Linked DNA regions of Homo sapiens: regions 2 and 3 are each linked to region 1. The links come from fine-mapping of genetic effects on gene expression. A gene starts in region 1. Each other region holds a variant in brackets. All regions are shown on one strand. Distances are from middle to middle.

Evidence for each region. PIP is the estimated chance that this variant, and not a neighbour inherited with it, causes the effect.
Region 2: its variant is fine-mapped to the expression of MATN2 in lung (TOPMed, PIP above 0.99).
Region 3: its variant is fine-mapped to the expression of MATN2 in iPS cells (HipSci, PIP 0.95).

What each region holds. Positions count from the first base shown.
Region 1 is chr8:97,864,465-97,875,390 of GRCh38, forward strand. It overlaps MATN2 (matrilin 2), which reads left to right and starts at 4,600. Exons shown (of 19, transcript NM_002380.5): 1 at 4,600-4,823. It also overlaps the pseudogene RPS23P1. RefSeq lists an enhancer at 3,701-4,200.
Region 2 is chr8:97,925,899-97,936,824 of GRCh38, forward strand. It overlaps MATN2 (matrilin 2), which reads left to right. Exons shown (of 19, transcript NM_002380.5): 3 at 5,055-5,624. Among named protein-coding and RNA genes, the nearest start is that of MATN2, 62 kb to the left of the region's middle. The variant G/C (reference allele first, on the strand shown) is at 6,800.
Region 3 is chr8:97,991,433-98,002,358 of GRCh38, forward strand. MATN2 (matrilin 2) reads left to right here. Exons shown (of 19, transcript NM_002380.5): 7 at 3,048-3,170. Among named protein-coding and RNA genes, the nearest start is that of SNORA72, 45 kb to the right of the region's middle. The variant G/GT (reference allele first, on the strand shown) is at 6,385.

The DNA.
Region 1 (10,926 bases):
GCCTCGACCTCCCCAGCTCAAGTGATCCTCCCATCTCAGCCTCCCAAATTGCTGGGAGGCTAATTTTTAAATTTTTAAAAAATTAATCCAGCTAATTATTAAATTTTTTGCAGAGATGGGGTCTCACTGTGTTGCTCAGGCTGGTCTCAAACTCCTGCGCTCAAGTGATCCTCCTGCCTAGGTCTCCCAAAGGGCTGACATGACAGGCATGAGCCACTGTGCCAGGCCTTATCTCATCCTTGATAGGAAGCTGCATCAATCTGATTCCACAAAACTACAAGGCTCTAAAATCCTGGTTAGAGCCGGTGTAACCCAGTCCCTTCTACAGCATGGCATAGGGCAAGATCTATAAATAAGCAAAAGGCCCAGTCCCTGTCCTCAGGAGCTCATGGTCCAAGTCAAAATCACATAAAAACATTTGAGTCCCCTTTGAAATGAGTATTGTTTTCTTGAACAAATTTTCAACTTGCTGTAGTTTTTTTCCTGATCACTTTCATCCTGTCTTTCCAAGATGGGATATGTTTATTTAGAAATTACTTCACCTGGGACAGCTGCTTCTCTCTTTTGCTCAGGCCCGTAGCACTGCAGGATGGGCAAGTGTCGTGGACCTCATACTGCTAGGAGTCTCTGTAGTCACCAACAAGATCAGAAGTGGCATGATAAACAGTACAAGAAAGCCCATTTGGGCACAGCCCTGAAGGCCAACCCTTTTGGAGGTGCTTCTCATGCAAAAGGAATTGTGCTGGGAAAAGTAGGAGTTGAAGCCAAAAAGCCAAATTCTGCCATTAGGAAGTGTGTCAGGGTCCAGTGGATCAAGGATGGCAAGAAAATCACAGCCTTTGTATTCAGTGATGGTTGCTTGAACCTTATTGTGGAAAACCATAAAGCTCTGGTTGCTGGATTTGGTCAAAAAGGTCATGCTGTTGGTGATATTTCTGGAGTTCGCTTTCAGGTTGTCAAAGTAGCCTGTGTCTTTCTTTTGGCCCTATACAAAGGCAAGAAGGAAAGACCAAGATCATAAATTTTAATGGTGAAAACACTGTAGTAATAAATGTTCATATGCCAAAAAGAAAAAAAAGAAATTATGTCACCTGGGACAATGGTGCCATCAGTCAGCCTGTCCTCAAAGGAACCCTCTGGACATGGACCCAACTGTCCATGTAGATGGGGTATCCCAAAGGGAGCTCTGCCCTGCCTACAGGGTTCCCCTCCCTGGGCTGGAGTCCAAGCTCATCCACTACCTTGGAACATTCCCTTAACCCTGCATCTCCAGCTCCAACAAATGGGCAGCTGGCCGGATATGAAGATGTTTCCTCTCCTGGCCTTCTACTTGAGGGAGACAGGGAGGAGCTCTAATAGTTTACATAGGACTCAAACACTGTCTGTCACCTAGGGAAACAGTGCACGTGAGATGACATTGCAATTTTACATGTCTCCTCATGCATTCAGTAGAGCTTTATTTTAGGTTTATAGGTCCGTGAGGCAACCTGTTTCTTCTTCAGTTTCCTTATACTGTACTCTGGTCCCCTTTGGATTTGACAGTCTCATTTCAATCTGCCCTCTAGGCCAGATAGCTAGGTCTCAAGTAAGAAGGATTCTAATGCAAAACAAAAAGTTCTAATGTTTACAAGGAGCAAAGGGATGCTTATGTTTAAAGTCTATATTCGAGGCTGTTCACGAGTGTGAGGCCTGGGTCAAATGACTCTCCTGACCCAAATCCTTACTCCACAATAGACTACGTGGAGATCGAGAACTGAGAGTTGATCCCAAGTATAGCTACTCAGGTTGTGATTAGTTTAAACAGATACCAATTCCAGTTAACTTGTGAGCTCTTAGGAGTTCTCAGATAATACATACCTCATTTTTGTCTGCTTACATGAGTGCCCACATAAGAACTGAAAATCTGTTTTTTTTCTTTCTGGGACAGAGTCTCACTCTGTCACCCAGTCTGGAGTGCAGTGGTGCAACCTCGGCTCATTGCGACTTCTGCCTCCCATGTTTAAGTGATTCTCCAGCCTCAGGCTCCCGAGTAGCTGAGATTACAGGCGTATGCCACTACACCCAGATAATTTTTGTATTATTATTATTATTATTATTCTTAATTTTTATTTTTTGAGATGGACTCTAGTTTTGTTGCCCAGGCTGGAGTGCAGTGGCACAATCTCAGCTCACTGCAACCTCCGCCTCCCAGGTTCAAGCGATTCTCCTGAGTTGCTGGGATTATAGCCTCCTGAGTAGCTGGGATTATAGGCGCCCACTACCACACCCGGCTACCTTTTGTATTTTTAGTAGAGACGGGGTTTCACCATGTTGACCAGGCTGGTCTAGAACTCCTGACCTCAAGTGATCAGTTCGCCTCAGCCTCCCAAAGTGCTGGGATTACAGGTGTGAGCCATCGCCCAGTCCCAGAACTAAAAATCTTAAACCCACACTTCTGAATAAGGTTCTCTGTACATCTAGCACATGGCAGGACCTCTAGCAGAAAAGGCAATTTTGGCCTTTTCCTAATCTATAGTCTTAATTATCAACTTGCAATTCATCCTGAAGGTAACCCAGAAATCATTTCATTGTTTGTTCTGCCTTTATATTTCAGGACATTGAACTTGCTTTTCCTTCATTTTTTTCTGGCAGACCTGAAGATCATCCCACAAGGTAGAACAACTCATTTAACCTATTTGACTTGGCCCCAAGTGTAATTTGTACATAGATTAACTATTCTGAAGAATTCCAATAGAACTCCCTGGGGGGAAAACACCCATTTTAATTGGCATACACCAGAGTCACTGGAATCAGTTACTAAATTACAATTTCCTTACAATTTGGAAGGGTTTGGGGATTGTTATTGTTTTCCTGGTAAATTACTGGATCACACTGGTGTCTTGGAATAAGTCAACACATTTTAAATTTAAGTTTCCATAAACTGTAGCTCAACTTCCCAAGTTCCTAGGGGATTTTCACTGGCCCAGACTCAGGAAGAATTTTCTTCTATGGGATCCAAGACTTCAGAGACCAAACATTTCCTGAAGACTTTCCTCTGCTTTCTGACCTCCACCTACCTCCTCCCAAAGACATAACAAAAAAACTATTTGTGATCAGTGCAGGCAGCCAAGAGTGCCCAGTGGGCCTAAGGTACTGGGTAAAGGAACAGGAATCCACAATTCTTTCTTGGTATTAAGGTATCATTGACTTGCCTGATGGCTCGAGTATGTTAACCCCTTGCTTCATGGCTGGAATTTTAATTACCCCTCCTGGAGCTTTTCTGAAGAATTGATTTTGGCGTTTATTCATATTTCAGAAATCAACTCTATCATCAAATAGGAATGATGGTTAATTACAAAACAAAGTCCGCCCAAAGCACCAAATTATCAGACTGTGGCACATCCAGAGGTTTTGAAACTAGTTAGTGCTGCTGCCTCTGCTGGTAGCTTGTTAAAACCTGAACTGGGGCCGGGCGCAGTGGCTCACGCCTGTAATCCCAGCACTTTGGGAGGCCGAGGCGGGCGGATCACGAGGTCAGGAGATCGACACCATCCTGGCTAACACGGTGAAACCCCGTCTCTACTGAAAATACAAAAAAAATTAGCCGGCCGTGGTGGCGGGAGCCTGTAGTCCCAGCTACTCTGAGGCAGGAGAATGGCGTGAATCCGGGAGGCAGAGCTTGCAGTAAGCCAAGATTGCGCCACTGCACTCCAGCCTGGGCGACTCCGTCTCAAAAAACAAACAAACAAACAAAAACACAAAACCTGAACTGGGTGCGTTGGCTAGTGGTTTGGGAACAGAATTTTGGAGCTTTATAGGAGATGTCCTGGTCTGTTATACATCCACTCACCCCAGCCTCCAGGAACTGGGGAGCTGGTAGAGGGGGGTGCCGGCCACTTTGACTGTCGCTGGCCAATCCTGTCTTCTGCATCCCTCCAAGGCTCCATGGGGACATCCAAGGTGAGGTTCCTCCATTCTGCAAAGTTGCAAATGTCTCTGCTCATAATTTCAAAAGTCTTGTCTGAACTAGACTTTCCCTGCTCCCTCGGGGTAGGAATTTTGTCTCCTCTCCATCCTGGCATCTTTACCTCCTCCCCATCCCGGGGCCTGGTCCCCAGCCAGTGGACGCTCTGTTAATATGAACTGGCACTGGTGGGGTGCTCTGGGCACTGGCAAGACAGCTCTTGGCGCTTGTCATCAATTAGCCCAATTCTCACCACTTTTTTCTCCATCCCCGCGTCAGTGGGTGCGTCCCGCAGGTCATGACCCCAAGTTCTAGATGTAAGATTCCTGCCATGTCTCCTTTCCCCCAGAAGACCCCTCCCCGCACTCCCAACCCGACAGGCCCCTAAAGCTGCCTGTGTTCCGTGCCTGCGGCTCCGGACCCCTGGAGTCTGATGCCCGCCTGGGCTCAGGCACGGACGGAGTGGAGCCAGGTGGCAGCAGGCAGGGCGCGCCGCCAGAGTGCCCAGCTCCCGGGGCTGCCCACAGGGTGGGGCCGCCCTCGCCGCCGCTCCCTCTCCGCGCCTTCCCCATCCCCAAAGAGGACACCCCTCCTTCCGCCCGGCCCGCTCCCCACCCCCGCCGCGGCACCGCCTCCCCAGCCGCCCGCCCTTGCCCAGCGCCTCCCAGGCAGCCAGCGAGCGAAGGGAGCGCTCTGGGATGGGACTTGGAGCAAGCGGCGGCGGCGGAGACAGAGGCAGAGGCAGAAGCTGGGGCTCCGTCCTCGCCTCCCACGAGCGATCCCCGAGGAGAGCCGCGGCCCTCGGCGAGGCGAAGAGGCCGACGAGGAAGACCCGGGTGGCTGCGCCCCTGCCTCGCTTCCCAGGCGCCGGCGGCTGCAGGTGAGCGCGGCGCGCTTTCCCCCGGCTCTGCGCGGCCGGGCGGCCTCGAAGTGCAGGCGGACCGACCCACCGACAGAATACCGAGCCTGGGCTGCCCGACGCGCAGGCGCCCTCCCCAGGCCCGCACTGCAGCCCCCAGCGCCCCGGGGCCCCGGCGCCTTCGACCCCTCCGAGGACAGGGGGAGAGGGAGGGCGGCGCTGCCCGACCCCTCGGCCGGGAGAGCTGGGCGCGCTCCCTGCGCAGGACAAGCCGCGCTGCAGCCGCCCCGGAGTGCCCCGTGGGGGCGCTGTGGCACGCAGCGGGGACGCCCAGACCCCGGCCACCGCGACCCAGGGAAAGGGAGACCTGTTGAGCGGGTATGCAGGGTGATTCCTATTCCACGGACAGCCGATGGCTCCCCCTTCCCTCTTCGGAACCTGGTATTTTCATGCCCGTGTCATCTGGATTTTGTTCTTGGGTCTCTATGGCAGCTAAACCTCCAGCTTCCCTATATTGTGGAAGAGGGAGAGAAAGGGGAAGGCATTTTGTGGTAGTTGCTAGAAACCCCAGAACAATTTGGAGCCGTTTGGGGAGAGGACAGAGAAATGGGGACTGTCCCTGGTAGGGTCTCCAGGACTGGGGGCACAGGAAAGTGCTCTCCTCAGGGACACTCGCGCCCACCCTGAACAAACCCAATTGACCAAGTTTCAATTTGTCATAAATCAGGAAGCCACAATGCATCTGCACCAAGCACACTTAAAATCGGCCTTTAAGGAATGGGGCAGTCAAGAGACTTCAGGGACCCGTGGTCGAGAGCAGAGACTGGGGTCAGCCTGCTTGGGTTTCAACCCCAGCTGTGAAGTTTACAGGGTTGATAACTTGAAGGTACCCAAGTATGCCTCAGTTTCCTCATCTGTCTAATGAGGATGGTAATACCCACAGAACTGTGAGGATTAAATGAGATATGGCGGCCGGGCACGGTGGCTCAGGGCTGTCATCCCAGCACTTTGGGAAGCCGGGGCGGGCGGATCACCTGAGGTCGGGAGTTCGAGACCAGCCTGACCAACATGGAGAAACCCCGTCTCTACTAAAAATACAAAATTAGCCGGACTTGGTGGCGCATGCCTGTAATCCCAGCTACTCGGGAGGTTGAGGCAGGAGAATCGGTTGAACCCAGGAGGCAGAGATTGCAGTGAGCGGAGATGGTGCCATTGCACTCCAGCCTGGGCAACAAGAGCTAAACTCCGTCTCAAAAGAAAAAAAAAAAGATATGGCAAGTAAAGTCCTTAGAACATTTCCAGGAGCATTCTAAGATTAGGTGAGTTCCATGGCTTGTCTTTGCAGAAATAGCAAGGAGCTGCTATGAGCAGTGAATGTACCTCTTCCCCAGTTCAGAAAGAGAGGCTCTCCATGGGTACGTGAGGGTGGCAGATAAGCCACGTGTATGCAACTGGTAGTTCCATGCAGGAGTCCACACGGGCGCAGTTCTCCCTGCTTGCTCCCAAAGGGCCAACCTCATAAAACCATGTCAAAATACCAACATGGGTTTATGACCTGGAATGTTTCCTCTCAGTCCCTGAAACTTGGCACTTAGAATCCTCTGTGGAGAATGAGATACTTATGGCTCTTCACCTTGCATTTTCCTATCTGTCCACACTTTTTACTTTTATTTCTGCCAATAGAATTCAATCTCAGGCCCCCGAGTTACCAGGACACTGTCTTCTATAAATCGGGGCTCTGGGGTTTCTTGTTCCCAGGCAACCCAGGGCCACCAAGGCCTAAGCTTGCTTGTTGGAGGTGTCAGAGCAGAGTCCAAATCTGAAACACCCTCGAGCAGCTGTCATGCCCTAAGCTCTTATCAGCGAGTGCCATATGTCCTTGTTTAGCAAAAGGTAGTTAAAAGTGTGGCCTGAGATTTAAAGAAAAGGAGAGATGTTTGCTCTTTGAAATAAGAGAGCCATTGGAGGTTCTGGAAAAATAATTCTACAGTTTATTTAGAAACAGTTCTGACTGGCACCTAAGAGAGGGCAAGGAGTGAGGTGGGGAGACTAAAAGGGGGAGAGACCGGCTTAGGCCTCAGGAAAAGCAGGCCGAAGAGGGTGTGACAGGTCTAACGCTGGCCTGAGCAAGGTGTTGGGTATGAGGCTGGGCAAGCAGTAGGAGAGGTGAGTGGTTTAAGACCAGTCAAGTTGGCAGAGAGCCTCTAGTGCTGCCCCTGGCACTCACTGCCCTCTGATCTGTAGCACCTGCAGGAGCGTCCCTTCCAGGGATTCCCCGTCTTCTAGGGAAGCTATGGAGGACTCCCCTGTTTAAAGCATATGGCAAGATAACTCAGGAGGGCCAGGGAAAGAGGGAGGCTGAGCATATGCCAAGGGGAGAATGGGGAATGTCATTGCTGTTGCTAGTGAATGGTGCCAGGGAGGTCCTTCCAAGGGGCCACTTGCCACTTGGAGCTTCAGCCCATGAGGCCATCCTTGAACCCTGCCATGTGGCTCGGCAGACAGCCAATACTGCCTGAAGGGGGCTCAGATGGAATGGCAGGGCTGGGCTGTTGCCAGTAATTGGTGTTAATGACTATGACAGTGGCTTTGACATGGATGAGATGGAGTTGGGGTACAACCCAAAGCACACTGCTCTTGGCACCCGAAAGACCTGGGTTGCAGTTCTAGCCCCTCATACCTGCAAAGATTTTGGAAAGTTACTTAGACTCTCTGTGCCTGACATCTGTTTCTTCATCTGTAAATGAAGACTGGATTTTTTGGGAGAATTAAATTAGTTAACAGGTGTTCAGTGCCTAGCTCAGAATAAATGCTCAATATTTGTTAGCTATACTTACTATTATTGTCTGAGCCTTGGTTTATATCATCTGTCAAATGGGCGTGATACTATGTCATAGGGTTGTTGTAAGGGTTAAATGAAATAATTAATGTGAATTTATCCAACAGTGTGTGAAGGGTGTAAAGTACTCAAAGTGAGTCAATTGAAATGGAAAATTTCACAAAATACCTGCATGTAAAAATCAGCGGCTGAGCAGGTGGATCAGCTAACATTTTTGGAAAGTTATTCTAAAAGTACTGTCAGAGGAACCTTTATCTACTTATGGAAAGTGGGGCTCACTGCCCATGGGGATACCCTGTAGTTATTTTATGTTGTTGTATTAGTTGCCTATTGCTGCTATAACAAATTTCACAAACATAGTGGCTTAAAACAACCCTAAGATGTTATCTTGCAGTTCTGAAGTTCAGAACTCTTAAATGGGTTTTGTAGAGCTAAAATCAAGGTGTCAGCAGGGCTCTGTGGTTCCTTTTGTAGGCTCTTGGGAAAATGTCTTTCATTTTCTGACTTCTAAAACCTGACTGCATTTCTTGGCTCTTGGTTCCTTCTTCCATCCTCAAAGCCAGTAACAGCATCTTCCAACCCTTCTCCCCATCCTGACTCTCGTGTCTCCCTCTTACAAAACCATACCTAGAAAATCTGGGCTAATCACTGCATCTCATAATTCCTAAGTTAATCACATCTCCAAAGTCCCCCCGTTTTTTTTTTTCAAGACAGAGTCTCGTTCTATCGCCCACGCTAGAGTGCAGTGGCGTGATCTTGGCTCACTGCAGCCTCCGCCTCCCAGGTTCAAGTGTTCTCCTGCTTCAGCCTCCCAAATAGATGGGATTACAGCCATGAGCTACCACACCTGGCTAATTTTTTATATTTTTAGTAGAGATGGGGTTTCACCGTGTTGGCCACGCTGGTTTCGAACTCCTAACCTTAGGTGATCTGCCCACTTTGTCCTCCCAAAGTCCTGGGATCACATGCGTGAGCCAACCGCACCCGGCCCAAAGTCCCTTTTGCCATGTAAGGCAACACAGTCTGGGGATTAGGCCATAGACATCTTTGACATATTATTCTATCTGCCAGAAATATTAGAGTATTAGATTGGGCATGATGGTAAGAAAAACTATTTAGAAAAAAGAAAGAAATATTAGAGTATTAGAGAAAATGATCTAAATCAAAGAGTTTTAGCTCACTTCTGTTTAGGGCTTCTCCCTGTACCCTCCCAGTTAGGTGAGTTTGTTTTCACATCTCTTTTTTTCTTTTTTTTTTTTTTCCCAGACAGTTTCTCTGTGTTGCCCAGGCTAGAGTGCAGTGGCACAATCTCTGCTCACTGCAACCTCTGCCTCCCAGGTTCAGGTGATCCTCCTACCTCAGCCTCCCAAGTTGCAACACCATGCCCTGCTAATTTTTGTATGTTTAGTAGAGACAGGGTTTCACCATGTTGGCCAGGCTGGTCTCAAACTCTTGACCTCATGATCCACCTGACTCAGCCTCCCAAAGTGCTGAGTTTACAGGTGTGAGCCACCATGCTTGGCTGTTTTCACATGTCTTAAAGACCAAAAGCTCAAGACCAGAGGGGTCAAGGCTATGGATCAAATGCTTCTTGAAACTCAGTTCAGAAATGGCTCCTTCCTGTCCTTTTTGGGCTTTCTCCCTCCCCTTGAGTAACCCTCAAATTTGTTTCTTTTTTAGATTTTTGTAAAAACTTTTTTTTTACAGAGACAGGGTCTCGCCATGTTGTCCAGGCTGGTCTCGAACTCCTGAGTTCAAGTGATCCTCTTGCCTCAGCCTCTCAAAGTACTGAGATTATAGGCGTGAGGCACCACGCCTGGCCAGTAACCCTCAACTTTGGCCCTTAGAACAGTCACTGTTGCCCCATCAACAGCATTTGTTGACTTTTCTAGCTGCTTCTCCTCTTCCATTTCTAGTGAAATAGAAAAAATGCCCTCATGTCCAGAGCAAGATCTCTGTGAAGCAAATCACTCTAGTGACGTTTGACCTCCCTGAGATTCCCAGACGGTGTCTGTACTAGTTTCCTATTGCTGCTGTAACAAGTTAGCACAAACTTAGTGACTTAAAACACAGATTTATTATCTTACAGTTCTGGAGGCCACAATTCTGAAATGGTTCTCATGGGGCTAAAAATCCAGGTGTCAGCAGGGAGAATTTGTTCCCCTGCCTTTTCCAACTTCCAGAGGCTGCACGCATTGCTCGGTTTGCTTCCATCTTCAAAGCCAGCAATGTCAGGCTGCATCCTTCTCTCACTGCCACACCTCAGATCTCTCTTCTGCCTTCCTCTTCTTCTTCTTCTTCTTTTTTTTTTTTTGTTTGAGACAAGGTTTTGCTCTGTCGCCCGGGCTATCATGCAGTGGTGCGATCACGGCTCACTGAAACCTCAGTCTCCCGGGTTTAAGTGACCCTCTTATTTAGGCTCCCAAGTAGCTGGGACTACAAGGATTGTGCCACCATGTCTGGCTAAATTTTTTTTTAATTTTAATTTTTTGTAGAGACAGGGTCTCTCTATCTTGCCCGGCTGATCTTCGACTCCTGGGCTCAAGCAATCCTCCTGCCTTGGTTTCCCAAAGTGCTGGGATTACAGGCATGAGCCACCATGCCCTGACCTCTTCTACTTTTTTTTTTTTGAGACAGAGTCTTGCTCTGTTGCCCAGGCTGGAGTGCAGTGGTGTGATCTCAGCTTACTGCAACCTCTGGCTCCTGGGTTCAAGCGATTCTCCTGCCTCAGCCTCCTGAGCAGCTGGGATTACAGGCGCGAGCCACCATGCCTGGCTAATTTTTCTATTTTTAGTAGAGATGGGGTTTCACCATGTTAGTCAGGCTGGTCTCGAACTTTTGACCTTGTGATCTGTCCGCCTCGACCTCCCAAAATGCTGGGATTACAGGCACAAGCCACCGCCCCTGGCCCCTCTTCTACTTTTGAGGACGCTCGTGATTACATTGGCCCACCTAGATAATCCAGGATCATCTCCCCTTTTTTAAGGTCATCTGATTAGCAACCTTAATTCCCTTTGCCATCTAACATCACATATTCCCAGCTTCTGGGAATTATGATGTAGACATCTTTGGAGGGCAATTATTCTGCCTGCCACAGGACCTGAGAAGGAGTTCCAAATAGTGTCCGCCTGGGCTGCCTCATTCTTAATAACCACCCCCTTCCAGAATGTGCACAATGGCCCACTCAAGAGAGAACACCTGTTAAACTCTTCAAAATTTCTCCCGCAGCTCTCAGGTCTCTCAGTCCCTCTGTTGGTGGAAGGATCTGAGGGCAATAGAGCCTGG
Region 2 (10,926 bases), 61 kb after region 1:
AATATTTACAGTATGATTACACTGCCATGATTGAATTTAGCCAGAACGGGAGAGAGGCTGATTAGTGACAAGGCTGCAATCTTGAGAGGAGGAAATAGTTCTGATGTTGCACATTGTCATTCTGCTGGAGTAGGAATGTTGCTTAAAATTGTCCTGGCTCAGTTCCCTTTCTCTGGAAGAGTAAAAGACACTCATTTGCCCAATACATGGACTTTGGAGTCAAGCTGACAGTACTGGAAGAGCTGTTAACAGAGTCCAGATCATCACTTTATGGTTAGAGGGATGACGTTTTATTATGGGCCCACAAACTGTCCTCCAACTGTGGCTGAAAACCCTGTCATGAGAGGCCAGAAGGAAGATCATTGTATGTTCTTCTCCCAGGCCAAGGAGACAGGATGTCCTTCATCAGAACCAGTTGTCAGCATAAGAAGAACACACACCAAGGAAATCCATTTCCTGGAAACATCTCTCAACAGTTCCCATGTGGAGAAACTGTGAAGCTTTTCACAGCAAATGTTTTAGAGTGTTCCCAGGTATTTGCAAAGCTCCTATCATAATGCTGGCTGTACTGATAATTTCCTAAGGGTGCCTGCCATGAGACGATGGAAAGGGCATCAGGTCTGACCATGGTGAGCCATGAGGGCCTTGCAGAGATAGAGTCAACTCTCTGGGCCTCAGTTTTCCTTTCTATAAAATGAGTGACTTGGACTCTGTTGGGACCCCTCTGCCTCTAAGATTCTACTAGTCTGTGATTCCATGAGTCAAACTTCAGAAGTGGTTATGGTCCCTCATAAAATGGCAAAGATTTGGGTCCTAGAATCTATGACTCCATTAGCAGGACCACATCTCCTCTAGAACATTTTGGCTTCGTGCTTGTCATCATCTTTTTGTACTAACTGCTCTGATTCAATCTCTTTCCCTGAAGACTTGCTTCCACCAGAATTCCATTTAATTCCACAGATGTTGAATGAAGACTTTCTGTGTTTCCAACTGCATGCCTACAAAGATAAATGAGACTAGTTTCCTAACCTTGGGGAATTCCCAGTGAGATAGCAAGGTCAAGACTTTATAGAACTTCTTTTCTCCAGAGAGCTCTCTATTTCTTTGACCTGTGTGTGTCCCTAGACCAGTAATATTGACTTCACCAGGGAGCTTGTTAGAAATGGAAACCTACAGAATCAGAAGCTCTGGGGTTGTGGTGCACTGGTCTTAGTTTTGTTCTGTTTTGTTTTGTTTTTGTTTTTGTTTTTGTTTTTGTTTTTGAGATGGAGTTCCACTCTTGTTGCCCAGGCTGCAGTGCAATGGCATGATCTTGGCTCACAGCAACCTCCAGCTCCCAGGTTCAAGCGATTCTCCTGCCTCAGCCTCCTGAATAGCTGAGATTATGGGCATGCACCACCACACCCAGCTAATTTTGTATTATTATTATTTTTTTTTTTTTAGTAGAGATGGGGTTTCTCCATGTTGGTCAGGCTGGTCTTGAACTCCCAACCTCAGGTGATCTGCCTGCCTCGGCCTCCCAAAGTGCTGGGATTACAGGCATGAGCCACTGTGCATTTGGCCTGGTCTTAGTTTTTAACAAGTCCTCTAGAGAGTTGAGATGCACACTTGAGTTTGAGAACCATTGAACTAGCCCTTTCAGGGACAAGCTATGAGACTGTGGTTCTGAGCCCTCAAGGGACCCAAGGACACATTTTGAAGAAAATTCAGTTACTTGGGCTGCCAGGACTTGGTGTTTTCAACTCAGAATTACAGCTTTCTTGGAACCTCCAACAACATTTTGAACCTTTGTGGCGTTTTTGTACATGTGCAGGTGTTGTGGAAACTACCCATTTGTTTTGAAGGGAGAGAATCCAGTTTAGCACACAATTCTCCATGGAACTTCCAGGCTTCCCTTTAAATTGATTGTGATGCTTGGATAGATATTGACACCATGACTAAGACCCATAATAAAGGCCCAATCCAAGGAGGCTCTGCTACTTCCAAAGATCTCCAAAGGAAGAGAGTTCTCAGAGTGCGAGTCTTGTGTGAATTTCCCTCCCTTCAAAGGTGCCTTAATTAATATCCTCCTCCATGGCAGGGTCTAAGCCTGGCCCCTCTTCTCAGCAGGTAAAGATTATTGGGTCACACTCTCCCTGCAGTAAGTTCAGACATGAAGGGTCGGGCAGGTGTGGCTCTTGGAGAGGGCCTGCCTGGGTCTTGGGAATGCTCCCCCTTGTCCTCCTTCCTGGGATCTGCAGATCCATCATCTACTGCCCCAACCCAGGGCTATATGCTAAACCACAGGAGCCTTCATGAAAATTAGAAAAGCACTCCTGCCTTTTTTTTTTTTTTTTTTTTTTTTCTGAGGTGGAGTCTTGCACTGTCACCTGGGCTGGAGTGCAGTGGCGCCATCTCAGCTCACTGCAACCTCCGCCTCCTGGGTTCAAGTGATTCTCCCGCCTCAGCCTCCCAAGTAGCTGGGACTACAGGTGCGTGCCACCATGCCTGACTAATTTTTTGTATTTTTAGTAGATTTGGCGCTTCACCATGTTAGCCAAGATGGTCTCAATCTCCTGACCTTGTGATCCTCCCGCCTCGGCCTCCCAAAGTGCTGGGATTACAGGCGTGAGCCACTGCACCTGGCTGAAAAGCACCCCCCTTAAGGTGCCTCTTAGGGTGGCTCAGCCCCTGGGGCTCAGGGCTTGGCTGGATTTCAGTTCCTCTCACCTCCTTGAGCAGGTGCCTGTGTGCAGCACCAACCACATAGCCATAGCTGTAACCCTGCCCCTACCCAGCCTGGGGCTGGACACGAGTGAGGGCTGATGGAGGGGTGGGGAGAGCCTGTACATGCAGCCAGCACACGTCGGGAGTTCCCAAGTGCTGGATCCTTCATTACATCATTTCCTTAAATTCTTACAGCTGCCCAACGAGGTGGATATTGGTTGCACCTCTGTATATTTTTTTCTTTTTCTAAATTATGAAAGATTTCAAACTCTCAGTGCTCCCATGTTCTCATCTATGCAATGGGTATGATGCTTCTTGATCCTTTCTCAAAAACTTGTTCTGAAAATCAAATCACACCAAGTGACAAAGTGCTCTGGAAATGTTAGGTTTCATATAGATCTTATCGCTGAACCCTCAAAGGCTCACTTTCTGGGGCCTCTGTTTTGAGACACTCACCCTGGACTCACCCAGCCCTCAGGGTTATGCATGGGTATGTCAGAACGTTGGTTTCTTGCCAGGCTACTGGTATTTGTGGGTGCCTCCTCCCCTAAAATCATTAGACTTGTGAGGCGGCAAGGATGAGTTGTGTGTGCAGGCACTCAGGGACGAGTCACAGCCTGGCAAGCTGGCCTGGACAGGATGACTTCATGGGCCTTTCCCACTTCTCATTTTTATGACTAGCTTTACTGTTTCATTTTGGCTTTCTCTCTCTTTCTTGCAGCTGTGGTGATTAGGATTTAGGGCAAGCATTTGGGATCCCTTTTCTAATACCTTTCAAATCCTGATTCAGCTGCAAAGTCCGGGAAGGGAGTAGAGAATGGGGGAGGAGGGACTCACCCTGGTGAAAGGCAGTAGCTCAGAATATCCGAGAAACTCCCAACAGGAATGCCCAGCCTCCACCCACTAAAGCTGGAGGCCTCTCATCTCATCCAATATCACCCTCGTACTAGAAACGCAAAAGGGATGAGTTTGTCTATGGACTCAAACCTTTACAGTCTTCTTGCTTAGCAGCTTAAGGCATAATTATGGTAGTCATGGTGGTAAGGGACTTAACATTTGCCTTTTTCCAATTTAACTGTGTCCTTTGTTGAAATATTTCTTAGTCAGGTCCCCTTTTCTCTATTTCCACTACTGTCCTAGGATTAGATCTGAGTCCCCCTCTCAATGAGATTAGTCCAGAAATTGTGTATACCATCCATCTTGCAAACCACTGCCAGACTCTGTTGACTTTTCATTATGTAACTTCCCTATGGGAGAGGTGAGTTACATAATATGATGCTAAGATGCCCCTCACTGGTGGCATCATGTACATATTTCTCAGTCTGAAAGGAAAGGTCTTTTTAAACTGGCTTCAGGCCATCTGTCCAACTAATTCCTGCCTGCAACTCCTAGTATACCCTCTACTACAAGGTCTCATCACTTATTCTGTTACCCACCACATTCATTCCGTCTTGGGCTTTGGTTCATGTGATCCACTCGATGTGCTCCTTCTCTCTAATCCAAACACCACGCATCTATAAGGTCAGCTCACGTCCCATCTCCTTGACCCCAGCCCATTCATATCCCTATTCTCTTAGCAGCTATTGTCAGGACGACACAGTTTTCATGCCAGTTATTCTTTCATGGTTTTATTAGTTAATTCTCCCCAGGTAGATTAGAAGCTCCTTAACTTTGGACCCTGTCCTAAGCTTCTGTTATATTCTCTGCAGTGCCCAGCCAAGCTTATGTGTCATGCAGTAAAGAATAAAATAATTTTGACCCTGATCAGGTGTTTGGTTACATAAAAACTGCATTGGCAACTTTCTAGAAACTAATATATTCATTTATCTTGCAAAAAGGATTGCTATCTGATTATAGCCAGTAGTCATGATCTTCCAGCCATGCACAAATATACCCTTATAACTTTCATGAGTGGGGAGGAAAATTGATGAAGGAGGTTTCAAAGGTGATCATCAGTCCCAGGATTTCCAACAATAGCCAGTCTGCCCTGGGTCCTTAACTCTCTTTTAATGTTTTTATTCTTATTTTTATTTTTTTAATGCAGTCTCACTCTTGTTGCCCAGGCTGGAGTTCAATGGCACTCTCTTGGCTCACTGCAACCTGTGCTTGCTGGATTCAAGTGATTCTCCTACCTCAGCCTCTCGAGTAGCTGGGAATACAGGTGCCGCCACCACACCCGGCTAATTTTTGTATTTTTAGTAGAGACAGGGTTTTACAGTGTTGACCAGGCTGGTCTTGAATTCCTGACCTCAGGTGATCCACCCGCCTTCCAAAGTGCTGGGATTACAGGTGTGAGCCACCACACCTGGCCTCTCTTCTAATGTATTTGACCTCTCCTCTTTCCCCAGAGAGTTCCTGTGAGAACAAGCGGGCAGACCTGGTTTTCATCATTGACAGCTCTCGCAGTGTCAACACCCATGACTATGCAAAGGTCAAGGAGTTCATCGTGGACATCTTGCAATTCTTGGACATTGGTCCTGATGTCACCCGAGTGGGCCTGCTCCAATATGGCAGCACTGTCAAGAATGAGTTCTCCCTCAAGACCTTCAAGAGGAAGTCCGAGGTGGAGCGTGCTGTCAAGAGGATGCGGCATCTGTCCACGGGCACCATGACTGGGCTGGCCATCCAGTATGCCCTGAACATCGCATTCTCAGAAGCAGAGGGGGCCCGGCCCCTGAGGGAGAATGTGCCACGGGTCATAATGATCGTGACAGATGGGAGACCTCAGGACTCCGTGGCCGAGGTGGCTGCTAAGGCACGGGACACGGGCATCCTAATCTTTGCCATTGGTGTGGGCCAGGTAGACTTCAACACCTTGAAGTCCATTGGGAGTGAGCCCCATGAGGACCATGTCTTCCTTGTGGCCAATTTCAGCCAGATTGAGACGCTGACCTCCGTGTTCCAGAAGAAGTTGTGCAGTAAGTCCTGCTCCTTTGTCACTCTTCTAGAGGAACCACTAGAATTCATTCATTCATCTTCAAGTGTTCATTCTGTGTTACTATGTCCCAGGTACTGTGCTGGCAATAGGTTTTCAACAAAGGCCAAGATAAACACAACGTGCTCCAGGGGCTTACACTTTGGCCAAGAGACACATGTTTTTATTTATTTATCTTTTAGAGACAGGGTCATGCTCTGTCACCCAGGCTGTAGTGCAGTGGCATGATCACAGCTCACTGTAACCTCAAACTCCTGGGCTTAGGTGATCCTCTTGCCTTAGCCTCATGAGTAGCTGGGACTACAGGTGTGCACCACCATGCCTGGCTTATTTTTTAACTATTTGTAGAGACAACGTTTCGCCATGTTGCCCAGGCTGATCTGAAACTCCTGGCTTCAAGCGATCCTCCTGCCTCAACCTCCCAAAGTGCTGGGATTATAGGCATGAGCACCCAGCTAAGACAGACATTAAATATATAATTATACAAATAAGTAACTATAGTTGTCACAGTGTAATGGAGGAAGAATTCAGGACATGAAGGAGTGTGCAACCCCAGGACCTTATCTAGGCCTGGATGCTCAGGGAGATTGCCCTGGGGAAGGGACACGTAAGCCCAAACCACAGAATGAGGAAGAGTAGATAGACAGAGTTTTTCTTCAGCACATGGAGCTGCCCTGGAATTCCCTAAGTTGGAATTCATGAGTTGGAGTACGGATAGGAATGGAAGGGCAGAAAAAGTAACATAATCTCTCCTTGGATGGTGTGGAATACCAAGGCATTTTTGCCCCATGGTGGTGCTGGCAGGGGATGTTTTCTCAGCTGACAAAGAGGTCCAGCGTATACAGAGGACCAAGGTGTGGTCCTGGCAGCTCCCCACCTGTTAAGATTGTAGGGGCCACTCCTCACCTGCCAACTCTTTCTGCAGGAAGATGCCTCTCGGAGCCCCTGAGCTGCATTCTTCTATGTTGGAAGCTTTCTTTCCTCTTTTGCTTTCTAACCCTCTTTTCACAGGGCTTCTCTCTCCCTTCCTTCCCACGCACTTTCCAGTTATCTCTACCCCTGCTGCTGCCCCCACTCTTCTCAGCAGGTCAGCCTGCATTCTCCCCAGTTTCCTGCCTCTGCGGCTGCCTTTTTGTTCCTTCCTCCTCCGGGAGGGCA[G/C]GGGGCCAGCCGCCCAATCCAGGAAACTCGCATCCTGATTTGGTAAACAATGTCCCACCCTGACTTGTCCATTCCCAGTGGTCCCTGTCCCCTCCAGCTACCATGAATCTTTGGTGGGGAAATAAAGGGAAATAATCTATTTTTAAATATCTATTTGTAAATTATCTATATGTAAATATCTATTTGTAAAATGTAAAATATCTTCCTAGAGCAGAGTGGAGAATGAGCTTTAGAGCCAGACTCAGCACCAACTCCCCAGGAGAGGGCACCCAGGAGGGGGTTCTCAGAATGTGACATATTCTAGACCTCTAAGATATAGCCCCCAGCGAAGAACAATGTGCTTTTGATGTGTATTAAACAAAATCCCCTGCTGAGAACTAACTTCAAAAAGCACAGAGATCTCATTTGTTCTTGACTCCGGAATCAAAAGATTTACTTAAGAAATCAATGCCATGAAGAAAAAAAGAACCTTTTTCCTTGCCATGCCACTTGGAAAGTGTTCAGAAGTGCCATTTCCCTGGCACTGCAGAGGCTGTGTTGTTGTGGTGTGTTGTGGCCTAAGTCAGCTGGAACACTTCAATCAGCAGAACACACTGCAAACATTTTCAAGGTTTATGACTTTAAATGACTTCTGCAGAATTTATGTTTCCCCTTTCCTGAAAATATTAAAAGGGAAATTGGTTCTGTAACCATTTTGACAGCTTATTCATTTGTGTTGGAAAATTTTAATGGAGGGGTTCTTTTTATAAGCCTTCTGTATTTATCAGAAAATGGAAAGATAACATGATAAGGCTGAGGAGCTACACAATGGGACTGACCGCCCCCCTCCCCCCACCCCCGCAATCCTGGTGTCGAATAGGATATACCAATGTGGACTTGTCTGTGGAAAAACCATCTCTGTGTGCTTTCTGGCAAGGCAGCAAAATGAAAAGGCAGTTTGGACTTTTCCTCCCTTCATCTTCTTTGTTATAATCTGGAAGCTCTAAGAAAACATTAGCGTTATCCCGCTTGTTCCTGTGCCTGAGAAATGAATCCCCTGTGAGTCCCCCCATCCACTCTGCAGGAGACAGGGCTGCTGTCTCTCACTGCACTGCACTGCCCGGCTTTGCTCAGCAGACTCAGCAGCCGTCTTGAAAGGCTGAAGAGGCCCCAGGGCCTCTTTATCAACTTCATGGTAAAGACTGTAGTAACTAACATTTATAAAGCACTTTCCCTTATGTTATCGCAGAAAGCCCCAGGAGGCAGGCAGCACACTCTTGCCACTCTCTTTTTACAGGTTAAGGAACTTGCTAAGTGAATCACCTGAAAAACAAATAGCCAAGAGATAGTTGGATGCTAATTCCAAACCTCTTGCTCATTTCACTCCTCTGCATGTTGGGAATTACAAATTCCTCTTTTAAGGTAAACCATTTTCTGGTGGCCACCTCCACAGTCCAGCCTGGCCAGGTAAACCTACTTTGCAATTGGCATTCACCTAAAATAGGTGAAACTCTGAAGGCAGCCTTCGTAGGAGGAAGAGGAGCTGACTCTAGTTGTACAATCTTGAGCAAATCCTTTGTGCTCTCTGAGCCTCAGTTGCCTCATCTGTAAAATGGGGATTTTATATGCAGAAAGTAGATGAGTGAACAGGTGTTGTAAATGGTAGAGCCCTATTCAGTGTGCACTGTGTTATGTATTATTACAATCAAATACACTGAGGACCGATGGGCTAGGCAGATGGCCTCAGTTTTGATCTGCACTCAAATGATCAGACAAAAATGGTGAGCATTTTCCAAGTTGCAGATGACATCTCTGAGGTTTGGGAAGTCTCATTTGTTCCTTAAACATTCATTGAACCTGTAAACCAAAAAGTATCTGAGACAAGTCCCAATCAATGTAAAAGTTTATTTTGCCAAGGTTAAGGACATGCCTGGAGAAAAGGAACACAAAATCACAGGAACAATCTGTGGTCTGTGCCTTTTTCCAAAGATGATTTTGAGAGCTTCAGTATTTAAAAGGGAGAGAGGGAGGGCATGGTCACATTACTGAATCCACATGTTGCAAGAGAAAAGGAGCAGGTAGGGGAACAGTCAATCATGTATTCCTCTAGTGCTCAGTAAATCAACACTTTACATAAGATAAGGTGAACATAGAGTAGCTACTTATGCAGATATTTAACCTTTTATCTGTAGCTATCTGCTTAGGAACAAAAGCAAAGGCAGTTTCTTGCATTACTCAGCTTTTAGCTTAATTTTTTTCCTTTTGGCATAGTGATTTGGGATCCTGAGATTTTATTTTCCTTTCACAAACTGTACCCCAATAATAGCTAATCTTGTCCTGTGCTAGGTACTTTCAAATACAGTATTCCACTTAATACTTAAAATAGCCGTTTGAGATAGGTACTATCATTATCTTTTTTTTTTCTTTCTAAGAGATAAGGTCTCACTATGTTGTCCAGGCTGGCCTCGAACTCCTGGGCTCAAGCAACCCTCTCACATCAGCCTCCCAAGTAGCTGGGACTACATGTCACTATACCTGGCTCTATTATCCCTATTTTACACAACTGGAAATTGTCAGGGTCTGCCTGGGGGCTCCAGGAGAGCTTTAAAGATGAGGTGATACTAATAATCACTAACATTTCTTGATATTAATGTATGCATGTGTTGTTTCAGGCTATTAGTGTATGTTAACTCACTTTATTCACACAACAAACCTGTCAAGTAGATGCTCTTATAGTTCCCATTTTATGGAAGAGGAAATTGAGAACCAAAGAGGTTAAATAACTTGTCCAAGGTCACAAACCTGTAAGTGCTGGAGCTTGTTTTTTTGTTTTTATTTGTTTGTTTTATTTTGTTTTTTGAGATAGGGTCTCACTCTGTCACCCAGGCTAGAGTGCAGTGGCATGATCATAGCTCACTACCGCCTCAAAGTTCCATCTCAGCTTGGACTACAGGTGTGCGCCGCCATGACTGAATAATTTTTACTTTTTAAAAAAGAAACAATGTCTTACTATGTTGCCTAGGCTGGTCTTGAACTCCTGGGCTCAAGCAGCTCTCCTGCCTCTGCCTCCCAAAGTGCTGGGACTACAGACATGAGCCACTGTGCCTGGCCTGTAAGTGGTAGAGTTGAGACGTGAGCCTAGGCATTCTGCAGGCAGAACTGAAAATCAATGCTACATCTGCAGATTGGGACAGGTTCTGTCTGGGTGTGATCAAGGCAGGACCTTTATCATACAGTGAGGAATTGATTAGACTCTGCAGCCAGACCTCGCTGGGTGAGAGTCCTGGCTTTTTTCTCTTTGGCTGTCTGGCTGTACAATCTTGAGCACAGTGGAGGCTTTATACTTGCAGGCAGGGACTTCCCATACCAGCCACAGCAAGGGGAATCCTGAGGTTGCATTCTCAGGCCACCCTTGAGACCACCAGGGAGAGGCCAGGTGCCCTGTGAATTGAGGTCCTGTCTACAAGATGACCAAACCCCACACATCCTGGAGTCTGCCATTTTTGCCACCCAGTAAGAGAAAACATGGAATCTATGGGCTGAAAACGCTGTCCCCAGTGTTCTGGTGATTCTTGCCACCTGGGCGAGATTGCTTTTAATTAACCTCTAGGTGCTGACTTTATCAGCCTCATCTGGTATTTTGGAGCAGGGAGCCAGGCTGTTCCTACCCTAATAGCCCCACCCCACCCAGGCCAGGCACAATTTAAGGCCCTAATAGTATTCCTAGGACACACCCTTCATGAACTGGCCTGGGCAGTCTACACTGATGGCACCCCTTTGAGGTCCTGATGTGAAGTGGGGAGGCTGGACTGACTTCACAAACGTTGAGTCTACTGTGCCCAGTAATACAAGACCTCCAGCCCACCTCCCTACACTGACCACTCCTTTAGTCATTCATACAATCATTAAAAAAAGGACTGTTCTTATTTCCTAGTCAACAAATCCAATCCCACCAATGACTTAGGCTGCTGATTAGTTATTCCTCCCCGCTGAACACAAGGCCTTGGCTGAGTGTAAACCCAGAGGGCCTTCTGAGAAATGAGGCTCATAGGACTGTTTCCAGCAGGCCGGTGGAGGAGGCAAGGCTGTGGTCTCCCCTTGGCTCTCACCGCAAAGGCCCATCCCACAGAGGGCAAGGCATGAGGCCT
Region 3 (10,926 bases), 130 kb after region 1:
ATTTTTCTGCTGGGCACAGTGGCTCACGCCTGTAATCCTAGCACTTTGAGAGGCCGAGGCGAGTGGATTGCCTGAGTTCAGGAGTTCGAGAACAGCCTGGGCAACACGGTGAAACCCCGTCTCTACTAAATTACAAAAAATTAGCTGGGTGTGGTGGTGTGTGCCTATAGTTCCAGCTACTCGGGAGGCTGAGGCAGGAGAATTGCTTGAACCCGGGAGGCGGAGATTGCAGTGAGCTGAGATCGTGCCACTGCACTCCACCCTGGGCAGCAGAGCGAGACTCTATCTCAAAAAAAAAAAAAAATTCTTTTTTCAGAAATGGGGTCTTGCTATGTTGCTCAGGCTGGTCTCAAATTTCTGGGTTCAAGCAATCCTCCAGCCTCAGCTTCACAAAGCATTGGGATTACAAGCATGAGCCACCACCCCTGGCTGAATTTTAATTGTTATTTCATTTTAATCAATTTTAATTTAAATAGACATATTAGGCAGCATGGTTCTAGATTAAGGGAGACTAAGCAGATATGAAAACGAGATACAATCTCTGACCCTAGACTAGATCCTGTACTGGAAGGTGAAAAATGCTATGAAGAACATAATTAAGTCAACTGACAAAATTAGAATATGGATGGTAGATTAAATATAAGTATTGTATCAATGTAAACTTATGAAATTTATAACCATACTGCAGTTATGTAAGAGAATATCCCTCCTCTTAGGAAACACGGACTGTTTTTAAGGGAAAGGACCAGAATGTATGTAATGTACCCTCACATAGGTCAGAGAGATGACCAAGTAATCACAGGAATGGGGTAAAATGTTAACAAAGGTGAATCTGGGTAAAGAGTATTTAAGTGTTTCTTGTTTTATTTTTATGTTTGTAACTTTTTGTAAGCTTGAAATTGTTTTCAAAGAAAAAGATTTTTTAAATGCCTTTATATATGACTATGGTATTACAATTATATTGTTTATAAAGACTCCCAGTGTTTTAAAGCTACATTATGAAGCATTTATGGACAAAATAATACAATGTCTGGGCCAGGTGTGGTGGCTCACTCCTGTAATCCCAGCACTTTGGAAGGCTGAGGCAGGTGGATCACGAGATCAGGAGTTCAAGACCAGCCTGGCCAAGATGGTGAAACCCCATCTCCACTAAAAATACAAAAATTAGCTGGGCACAGTGGCAGGCGCCTGTAATCCCAACTACTTGGGAGGCTGAGGCAGGAGGATTGCCTGAACCTGGGCGGCAGAGGTTGCAGTGAGCCAAGATTGCGCCACTGCACTCCAGCCTGGGTGTTAGAGTGAGACTCCATCTCAAAAAAAAAAAAAAAAAAAAAAAAATTACTCAGGCATGGTGGCATGCACTGGTAATTCCAGCTACTCAGGAGGCTGAAGCAGGAGAATTGCTTGAACCTGGGAGGTGGAGGTTGCAGTGAGCCTAGATTGCGACATTGCGCTTCAGCCTGGGCGATGGAGCGAGACTCTGTCTCAAAACAAACAATAATAATAATAATAATAATAATAATAATAACAACAATACAATGTCTGGGGTTTGCTTCAAAGTAATGTGGGATCTTACTATAGAGAGTGGGGACATAGCTGAAAGCCAAGCAGCCATAGATTGATTCTCCTGAAGCTGGGTGATATGTACATGGATTTATTATACTACTCAGTCCATTTTTGAAATTGGACATTATTGTATATTTTGCTTAACATTTCCATAAGTTTAAATTGGGAAAAATTGGCATCTCACTCAACATTTTTTCCTTTCAAGAATATTGTATATCTTTCCCTTACTCAGTTTGTTTCCTCTGGTATGGACTGGGAACTCTCATTTATACCAAATTATTTGTTAGGAAGATTATTTATGCAGTTCAAATGTTCCTTAAAATAATAAAAACCCTCATCAAAACAAAGACTCCTTTTAAGATTCCATCAGTGGTCATTTATTTCAAGCAATTTTAAACAATGTGTCCAAGTTCCACTATGGGAAAATATTTTGCTCAGATTCTGCAATAAAAGTTTCTTTCCATATTTAAAAATACTTATACAAAAAATACAAAAAAAAGAAAAAGAACAAAAACAAAAAAATAAAAATACACAAGTAAAATTTCATTATGAAAAATTTCATGAAATACTTTTAAAAAAATATTTTGGTTTAAATTAATGTATCCCTAGAGATCACATTCTCTGTGAATCTTGAGGTAAAAATCCTATTTATGTGCAGCTGAGCCCAATGAGGTAACCAGGAGGTGTTTTGAACTCAGAGTATTTATGCCTTTCACTCCTAGGCCTTATTTTTCCCAGGATATGATTTTGTGTCTTATTGTTTGGCTCATTGTTTGATGGGTTTAAGTGGTTTGGAGTTTGGCTTTGGGAACGTTTAATTGTTTTAATTGCTTAAATTCGATAAAACACTCAGCTAAACCATTCTCAGCCTGCAGTCTGGCAAATACCCCATCTTCATTTTAGTGGCTCTTACATGAATCAAGACAAGGAAAGCATGTTCACAAATTTGTTTGTTGCATAAACGTTTTGTAATATGTCAGGAAGTTTGTCTTTGCCTAGCAGAAGAGTCCAGGTATAATAATAATAATAATAGAAGAAGAAGAAGGAAAGGAAGAGAGAAAGAAAGAAAGAAAGAAAAAGAAAGAAAGAAAGAAGAAAGGAAGAAAGGAAAGGAAGGAAGGAAGGAAGGGAGAGAGAGGAAGGAAGGAAAGAAAGAAAGAAAAGAAAAGAGGGAAAGAAGAGGAGGAGGGAGGGGGGAAGAGGGAAGAGGGGGAAGGGAAAGAGGAAGGAGAAGGGGGAGGAAGGGAAAGAGGGAGGAGGAGGGAAGAAGGAGAAGAAGGAAAGAAGGAGAAGAAGTTTCTCTTAGGAGAGGCCATATCTCTAAACATGGAAGTAGCTTTATTGGGAGACCCCTTCATGGTGTGACTCTTTGAGGTGTGGGATTTTACCTGTTTGGGAAAATGAAGACTGGAAATCCCTGGTTTTCCTATGCTAGCTTTATTGATTGGTTTGCCATTCTTGTGATTTTTCCTTCTTGCCAGAGATAGACTACTGTGCCTCATCTAATCACGGATGTCAGCACGAGTGTGTTAACACAGATGATTCCTATTCCTGCCACTGCCTGAAAGGCTTTACCCTGAATCCAGATAAGAAAACCTGCAGAAGTAAGTTACAGTGGGAGTTGGAGAAGGGCTTGTTCTGCTAAATGCTCCTCTAGTTAGTTTTCCTTTCCGTGCAAATCTTAAGCAAGATGTGCTTGTATTCAGCATTGTGTCTATTAACATTATTCTCCCCTTTATTTTACTTTTTGGCTCACTAGATCCTATTATGTGGATGATTTTTAAATATTGAATAGGTCTGGCCATTAGATTCAATTAGCCAAGTGGACCCAAGCTGAAGCTCCCACCTATGTGAAATGCAGGTGCAGTCTCCCTCCCCCTTATTCCCATAGCATTGGGGTCTTGGAAAAAGAAAAGAATGGGCCCAGAGATGAGAGGTAGAAGGAGTTGGTTTCTTCTACTCCTACAAGATAAGACACTTGACGGATGCTAAGAGGGAGGACATTGCAGCTTTATTCCCTTTGATAGGAAAGAAGAAGAAAAATGAGACTCTAGGACATCCCAGCAATATTCAAGGGGTACAGGGTGTCAGCGGGTTGATATTGTGGATGTACTGAGTGCCTCAAATGCCTGTCATCTAGCACATCAAAGGGCATGATTGGGGATCTGAGCACAGGCCCCAGAGGGCACCTGCTTAAGACAAACCATTCCTGAGAGACTGCTAGAATGGACGGCCCACAAGGACAGAGACGATTATCTTTTTCTCGCTGCTGAATTCTCAAAAGCTCAAAGAGTGCTTGGCACTCATAGATGTGCACAATGTTTGCTGAATGGGAATGAGTAAGTGAATCTTTCTATGATGTATCATCCTGGAGAAATTGAAGCTATTTTTTTTTTAATTCTTCAATCTTGTTAGAAAGATAGCCTTTTTTAGGCGTGCAAGTTGTGAATTTTTTTTCAGAAAGTCTTTCCCTAGTTAGTCCACACTTATGCACACTGAATTGTTTGGGGTCTGCTGACAATGTCATTCGTAGAACTCTCTGGAGCTTCCATTGAGGGATGTAATTTTCTGTATGTTCCTTCACCCATTTCTTCCTGATGGTGTGTACAGCAGTGTTCTGCCTGGCAAGACTGCGTTTTGAAAGGTTTCACATATATCTTTTTTGAAAAGCACCATGAGCTATTTAACTGAATCCAGATGAGTCACATTCTGCTCATAGCACAGATTAACTTTCATACTCATTCTAGCAAGTGCTAAACTGTGTATAGTGGCAGATGGTTGCAAATCCTGGATTTTGAAACGGAGCCTGTCTTATAAAACTATTCTCACTGCCTTGTGAGGGTACAAACCCTGCACACATTCAAGCATTAAATGAAAATTTTAATGGAGAGCATTCAGAATGTGAAAACAATTAGATAAGCTATTTTTCATAAGACCACACATGCCTGCAATAGGTCAGAGGGCCAACTTTTCTGGTCTGGCCACTCCTCTGTGCTATTTACACCTTTTGCTAGGAGTGGGTGTGTGAGGGACTGGCTGCACCCAGGGGAAATCACTCCCAGGTGGACTCAAATTTGCAGACCCAAAGCTCTTCAGTGGGCGGTGATTAGATCTGGTTCAGCTCAGATGCTCATTGCAAGCTTCCTCATGTGTTACTAATGGAGGGGAAAAAGGAAACAAGTTAGGCTTGGGGCCATGGGCGGAGGACATTTTCTTGACGTTCTGCATGTCTTACCAACCATCTGAGTCCCTTAATTTCTGCTACTCCCTCCACACCCTTCCTGGAGAGGCACTTGGAATAAGAGAAGATCCAATGCAATGCAGGCATCATTATCATGGGAAGGAGAAGACTGAGAAAGGAAGAGCGAGTAGAGAGGGAGTGACCGTTTTGGAGTGGTCTGAGCGCTACAGATTGGTCCCCAGGTGGGCCTGTTTGCAAGCAAGCTGTGGCCCCGACCAGAGTCCCTAATGCTCATCCATGTATATTCAGTGGGTATAGCCCCTCTTTAGCCAGGGTTCTTACTTTTTCATCCAAGAAAAATGAAATTTGTTCCTAAAGGCCAGTGTCCTCATCAGCCCTCGCCCAACGTCCCGCCTCATCGTTACATTTTCCATTGTCTTTGCTGTGAACCCAACCCTGACTCCTGAGGTCAGCCTGCAGGAGCGGCCCCTGACTTCATGCTTGCACTCAGTCCATTAGGGCAGACAGCTGTAAACGGAAGCGAGTGCTCACTGTCTCTCTGGAGCATTATGTGGATGAAGGAAGCCAAGAAATTGGGTTTAAAAATCTGGAGTCCGTTATTAGAAGCCTGAGGTCTCTTGAGTGATCTGAGCATTACAAATCTTCAGCCCAGGATACAGCCATTTACGTTTAATAGGAGGTTGATGGATGTGGGTAATTTTCAAATCTAATATGAAATCTATTTTTAAAGGAATTTGATGTCATCGAAATTAAACTGGGGGAAAAAAGATCAAGGCAGAATCCTACTGAAGAAAAGATTCTTGGCCAGGATTTGTTCTTGCTCCTCATCTGGGCACAATTTCTCCTCATGGAGAGTGCTATCATCAGTTTAAGGCATGAATTATTAAGGCAGTAGTGCAAAGCACAGAAACTGCGACTGCCTTGCCTGCCCAGGTAGAGCCCTAGGGCCAAATCAGATGTGGGTTCATCCCCTGTGCTGGGCTCCAGGATCCCTGATTCTGGTACCATGATGAGTGCTCTCAAAAATTGGTGTGAAGCCCACGGGTTCGACTGAGCCAAGAGACGTGACGTCCAGGCTTGGCAATGTCACTCATATTGGTTATGTGACCCTGAGCAGCTACTTTCTACTTCTCAGGACCTGGATTTCCTAAACTGTAGGAACAGGACTTCCTGCCTTAACACCCTGTTGCCTCTCCAGTTTTTTTGAAACTTACTATCTGTGCACTCAGCTGGTATCAAAATGTACTACCTGGGGTCACTGATCTTTCATGGTTTCAGTCTTACCTGCTCAGGGCTCCAACTCTTTCACAAGTTAGCACTCAGAAAGATCGTTTGATTTGTTTTCTGACAGTCCTGTCATCTGACCTCACAGAGCTTTAGTGGACACTCTGGGCCTTACCAGATTAAGTTGTGTCCATCCTGTGGGTGCCATGTCAGAGCACCTATCATGGTACCAGATATAGGATGCACAGTAGGTCCTCAATAAATATTTAGTGAATGAATAAGTGAGTGAGTGAATATCTGAGAAGCACACACATGAGGAAATATGACAAAAGGGTGGTGAGAAGGCAAAGAGCCACTGTTAAACGTCTGCTAAAAAGAACCATTTGGAGAAG[G/GT]TTTTTTTTTTTTTTTTTTTCCAGACAGAATCTCATTCTATTGCCCAGGCTGGAGTGCAGTGGAGCAATCTTGGCTCACTACAACCTCTGTCTCCCAGGCTCAGGTGATTGTCTCACTTCGGCCTCCCTAGTAGCTGGGACTACAGGCGTGCACCATCATGCCTGACTAGTTTTTGTATTTTTAGTAGAGACGGGGTTTCACCATGTTGTCCAGGCTGGTCTCAAACTCCTGGACTCAAGTGATTCTCCCTCCTCAGTCTCCCAAAGTGCTGGGATTACAGGCATGAGCCACCACGCCCAGCCGAAAAGGGTGGTATTTGAATAGCTGCCTGCCAGATTGCTGGGTGATAACCTCTTTAAGAATCTAAATGGTTTTCAGTTGAATTATCTCATGTGTAAATCATTCTTTAAAAAAAAAATCTTGCTGGGCGCGGTGGCTCACGCCTGTAATCCCAGCACTTTGGGAGGCCGAGGCGGGCGGATCACAAGGTCAGGAGATCGAGACCATCCTGGCTAACACGGTGAAACCCCGTCTCTACTAAAAAATATTAAAAAATTAGCCGGGCTTGGTGGCGGGCGCCTGTAGTCCCAACTGCTCAGGAGGCTGAGGCAGGAGAATGGCGTGAACCTGGGAGGCGGAGCTTGCAGTGAGCCGAGATCGTGCCACTGCACTCCAGCCTGGGCGACAGTGAGACTCTGTCTCAAAAAAAAAAAAAAAAAAAAAATCTTGCTTGAAACATTATTTACTAATTTATTTTAATTTTTTAAAAATGTTTTTCTTTTTATATTTTTATTGTATGTGCTGCTGAAGCGAGAGCTTCAGCATATTTTTTTATATTTTTAAAATTTTAAAAATTTTTTTTTATATTTTTAAAATTGTTACAACATAGTTGTACCTCTTTTTGGTATTTATTTATTTTTTAAAATTGACATAAAAATTGTATACTTGTATACAATATGTTGTTTTGCAATACGTAAATATAAATTTTTCTTAAAGACAACATTGGCTTTTTTAGTGTGGCAAAATATATATAACATAAAATGTACCATTTTAACCATTTTTAAGTATCTAGTCCAGTGGTATTAAGCACATTCACATTGTTGTGCAACCATCACCACCTTCAATCTCCAGAACTTCTTCACCCCAAACTGAGACTCTATACCCATTAAACAATAATTCCCCAGCTCCTCCTCCTCCATCTCCTGGCAGCCACCAATCTACTTTTTGTCTATGAATTTGACTATTCTAGGTGCCTCATATAAGTGGAATCATAGAATATTTGTCCTTTTGTAACCAGCTTATATTGCTTGGCATAATGTCTTCAAGGTTCGTTCAGTTGTAGGACGTGTCAGAATTTCCTTCCTTTTTAAGGCTGAATAATATTCCATTGTATCTATACATCATCCTTTGTACTCATCCTTTGATAGATCCCTGGGTTGCTTCCACCTTTTGACTTTTATTTATTAATGCAGCTATGAACTTGGGTGTGTATACCCAGAAATGGAATTGCTGGATCATATGGTTAATTCTATATTTAATTTTTTGAGGAACCGCCATGCTGTTTTCCACAGTGGCTGAATGCTGGGTTTTAAAAAGAGAGTTGACTAAAGATCATTTCACCTTTCCCTGATGGTGTAATGGAGTGATTCCTACAGGCAGTAGACTGCGGGCCCTTCCTGTTCTGTGTTTGTCTGTCTGTCTGTGACTGGTGTTTTATTGCCAGGCCTATTTTCCTCCATCAAAGCTCTTGGCTTGTTTCCTGGCACTCAGTTATGGCCTGCACAGGTGAGGCTGCTGATGAGTTTCAGGTAGATGAATAGAAACTGCACACAGCTAACAATATCCTGCCTCTCCTCACATGGGAGTGAGCTCCAGAGAGAGTGCCAAGGGTCAGTGACACAGCAAGGTGATGTCTTTTCTTCTACACCAGCCCTGCATGTTGTGACCTTCTCTCCATGCACTCTGTCTGCAGCCATTCTGCTCATACTCTGGGCATGAAGCAAGCTCCAGCCACCAGTCACCTGGGAGGGCACGTCACGGATTCTTTTTTTTTTTTTTTTTTTAATTTTTTAATTTTTTTAAAGACGGAATCTCACTCTGTCACCCAGGCTGGAATACAGTGGCGCGATCTTGGCTCACTGCAACCTCCATCTCCTGGGTTCTAGCGATCCTCTCACCTCAGCTTCCCAAGTAGCTGGGACTACAGATATGTACCACCATGCCTGGCTGATTTTTGTATTGTTAGTAGAGGTGGGCTTTCACCATGTTGGCCAGGCTGGTCTTGAACTCCTGACCTCAAGTGATCCATCCGCCTCAGCCTTCCAAAGTGCTGGGATACAGGCATGAGCCACTGTGTCCAGCCAGATCCTTTAAGAGACCCTTTGAGGGGTCCTTCAGGTCTGGGTCCCATTCACATTTCCATTTTTACTAGCAGTGGATCTTGATCAAGTTATTAACCTCGCTAAACCTCAATTCCTCAGCTTTGAAATATGGATAACAGGCCAGGTGCGGTGGCTCACGCCTATAATCCCAGCACTTTGGGAGGCTGAGGCGGGTGGATCACAAGGTCAGGAGATCGAGACCAGCCTGGCCAATATGGTGAAACCCCGTCTCTACTAAATATATAAAAATTAGCCGGGTGTGGTAGCGGGCACCTGTAGTCCCAGCTACTCAGGAGGCTGAGGCAGGAGAATTGCTTGAACCCAGGAGGCAGAAGTTGCAGTGAGCCGAGATCACGCCACTGCACTCCAGCCTGGATGACAGAGCGAGACTCCGTCTCAAAAAAAAAAAAAAGAAATATGGTTAACAATCACACATATCTTGCAGGGTCAAATGAAGTTATGTTTGTAAAGTGGTTGGCACAGCATCTGGCATTCAGCAGGTATTTAAGAAATGGCAGCAGCTATGATGCTATGATTATCATCACTAATGTAACTATCAGACTGCCACTAATAGTGAGAAAAATAAAGATGGCATGGTCCCTGCTCGTGGAACTCAGTCTAGTGAAAGAAACAGACTTTGAAGCATCACAGATACAAAACATACTACATAACCATTGTGATGAATGCTACGAAAGAGAGGTCCTGTAGAAAGAACTGACTTCATCTACGAGGTCACAAAAGATGACAAAATGATGTTGAGCTGATCGTGAAGGAAGATAGAGGTTAGCCAGTGCAGCAAGGAGCCACTGAGACAAGAGGGTGATGTGTCATATCTTTAAGTGATTTGTGGATGTGAGCTTCGTCAAATAACTTTTGGGCAGATACATGGTAAAAATAAAATCTAGTCATTACTTTATGATTTCAGATCATTTCCCCTGTATCAGTTATGGTGCTTTTTGTTCACACAAAACCGGAAATCCAATTAATGGTGTTTTAAGTCAGAAGGACTTTTATTTTTTACCTGACAAGTCCAAAGGTGGTTGGTCCTATGGATGGCTCAGTGACTCAGTGATATTATCAAGAACCCAGACTCTTTCTGTCTTTCTATTCTGGCAAAGTATGTTGCATTTACATTTTCATCCTTGTCACCTCTTGGTTACAAGATGGTTGCTGCAGCTACCAGCATCATATCCTTACACTACAAGACTCAAAGGCAGAAAGGACAGAGAGCAGAGAAAAGCATTTCTCTTTATACACTTTTGTCTTTTTTTTTTTTTTTTTTTTGAGACAGAGTCTCACTCTGTTGCCCAGGCTGGAGTGCAGTGGCACAATCTCAGCTCACTGCAACCTCTGCCTCCTGGGTTCAAGCGATTCTCATGCCTCAGGCTCCCAAGTAGCTGGGATTGCAGACGCATGCCACCATGCCCAGCTAATTTTGTTTTTTTGTTTGTTTGTTTTTAGTAGAGGTGGGGTTTCACCATGTTAGCCAGGCTGGTCTTGAACTCCTGGCCTCAAGTGATCTGCCCACCTTGGCCTTCCAAAGTGCTGGGATTACAGGCATGAGCCACTGTGCCTGGCCACCTTTGTCTTTTCAGGAAGAAAAATCTTTCTTGAGGGCCCCCAGTAAGCTTCTTATGTTTCATTGGTCAGAACTAGGGCATATTCCCACCCCTTGACCAATGACTGACAAAGAAGAACATGGTTGCCACGCTGGCTTAGACCAGCCATGACTCATGCTTGGGGGTCATGGGGTAATGGTTATTGGCAAGACAACCAACAGTGTCTGCCACATCCCCAGAAAAAGAACAATGCTGTGCAGTTAAACTGATCCAGCCCAGCCAATGAGGTCGGTGGTGACCTTTTCCCGCAACACCAGTCTCATAAAGCCTCTCCACAAGCTCATTTTGTGTCCTTTTCCAGTTCTCTATCTTCCCTGGAGCCTGCTATGTGTGGGGTCTTATGGCTTTAGCATTTTCTACCAGGAAAGGAATTGCTTATTGGCTCCTGGTTATGACACAGTTTCCATCTGCTGGCAGAAACACAGCATGGATAGAGTGACCTTACCATAGGACAGAATTGCAGTAGCCTGGGGCAGCATCAGAGATACGCCTCCTCCAGTCCCACGATACTATGCCAGCGTGGTCTCAACAGAGCAAGGCG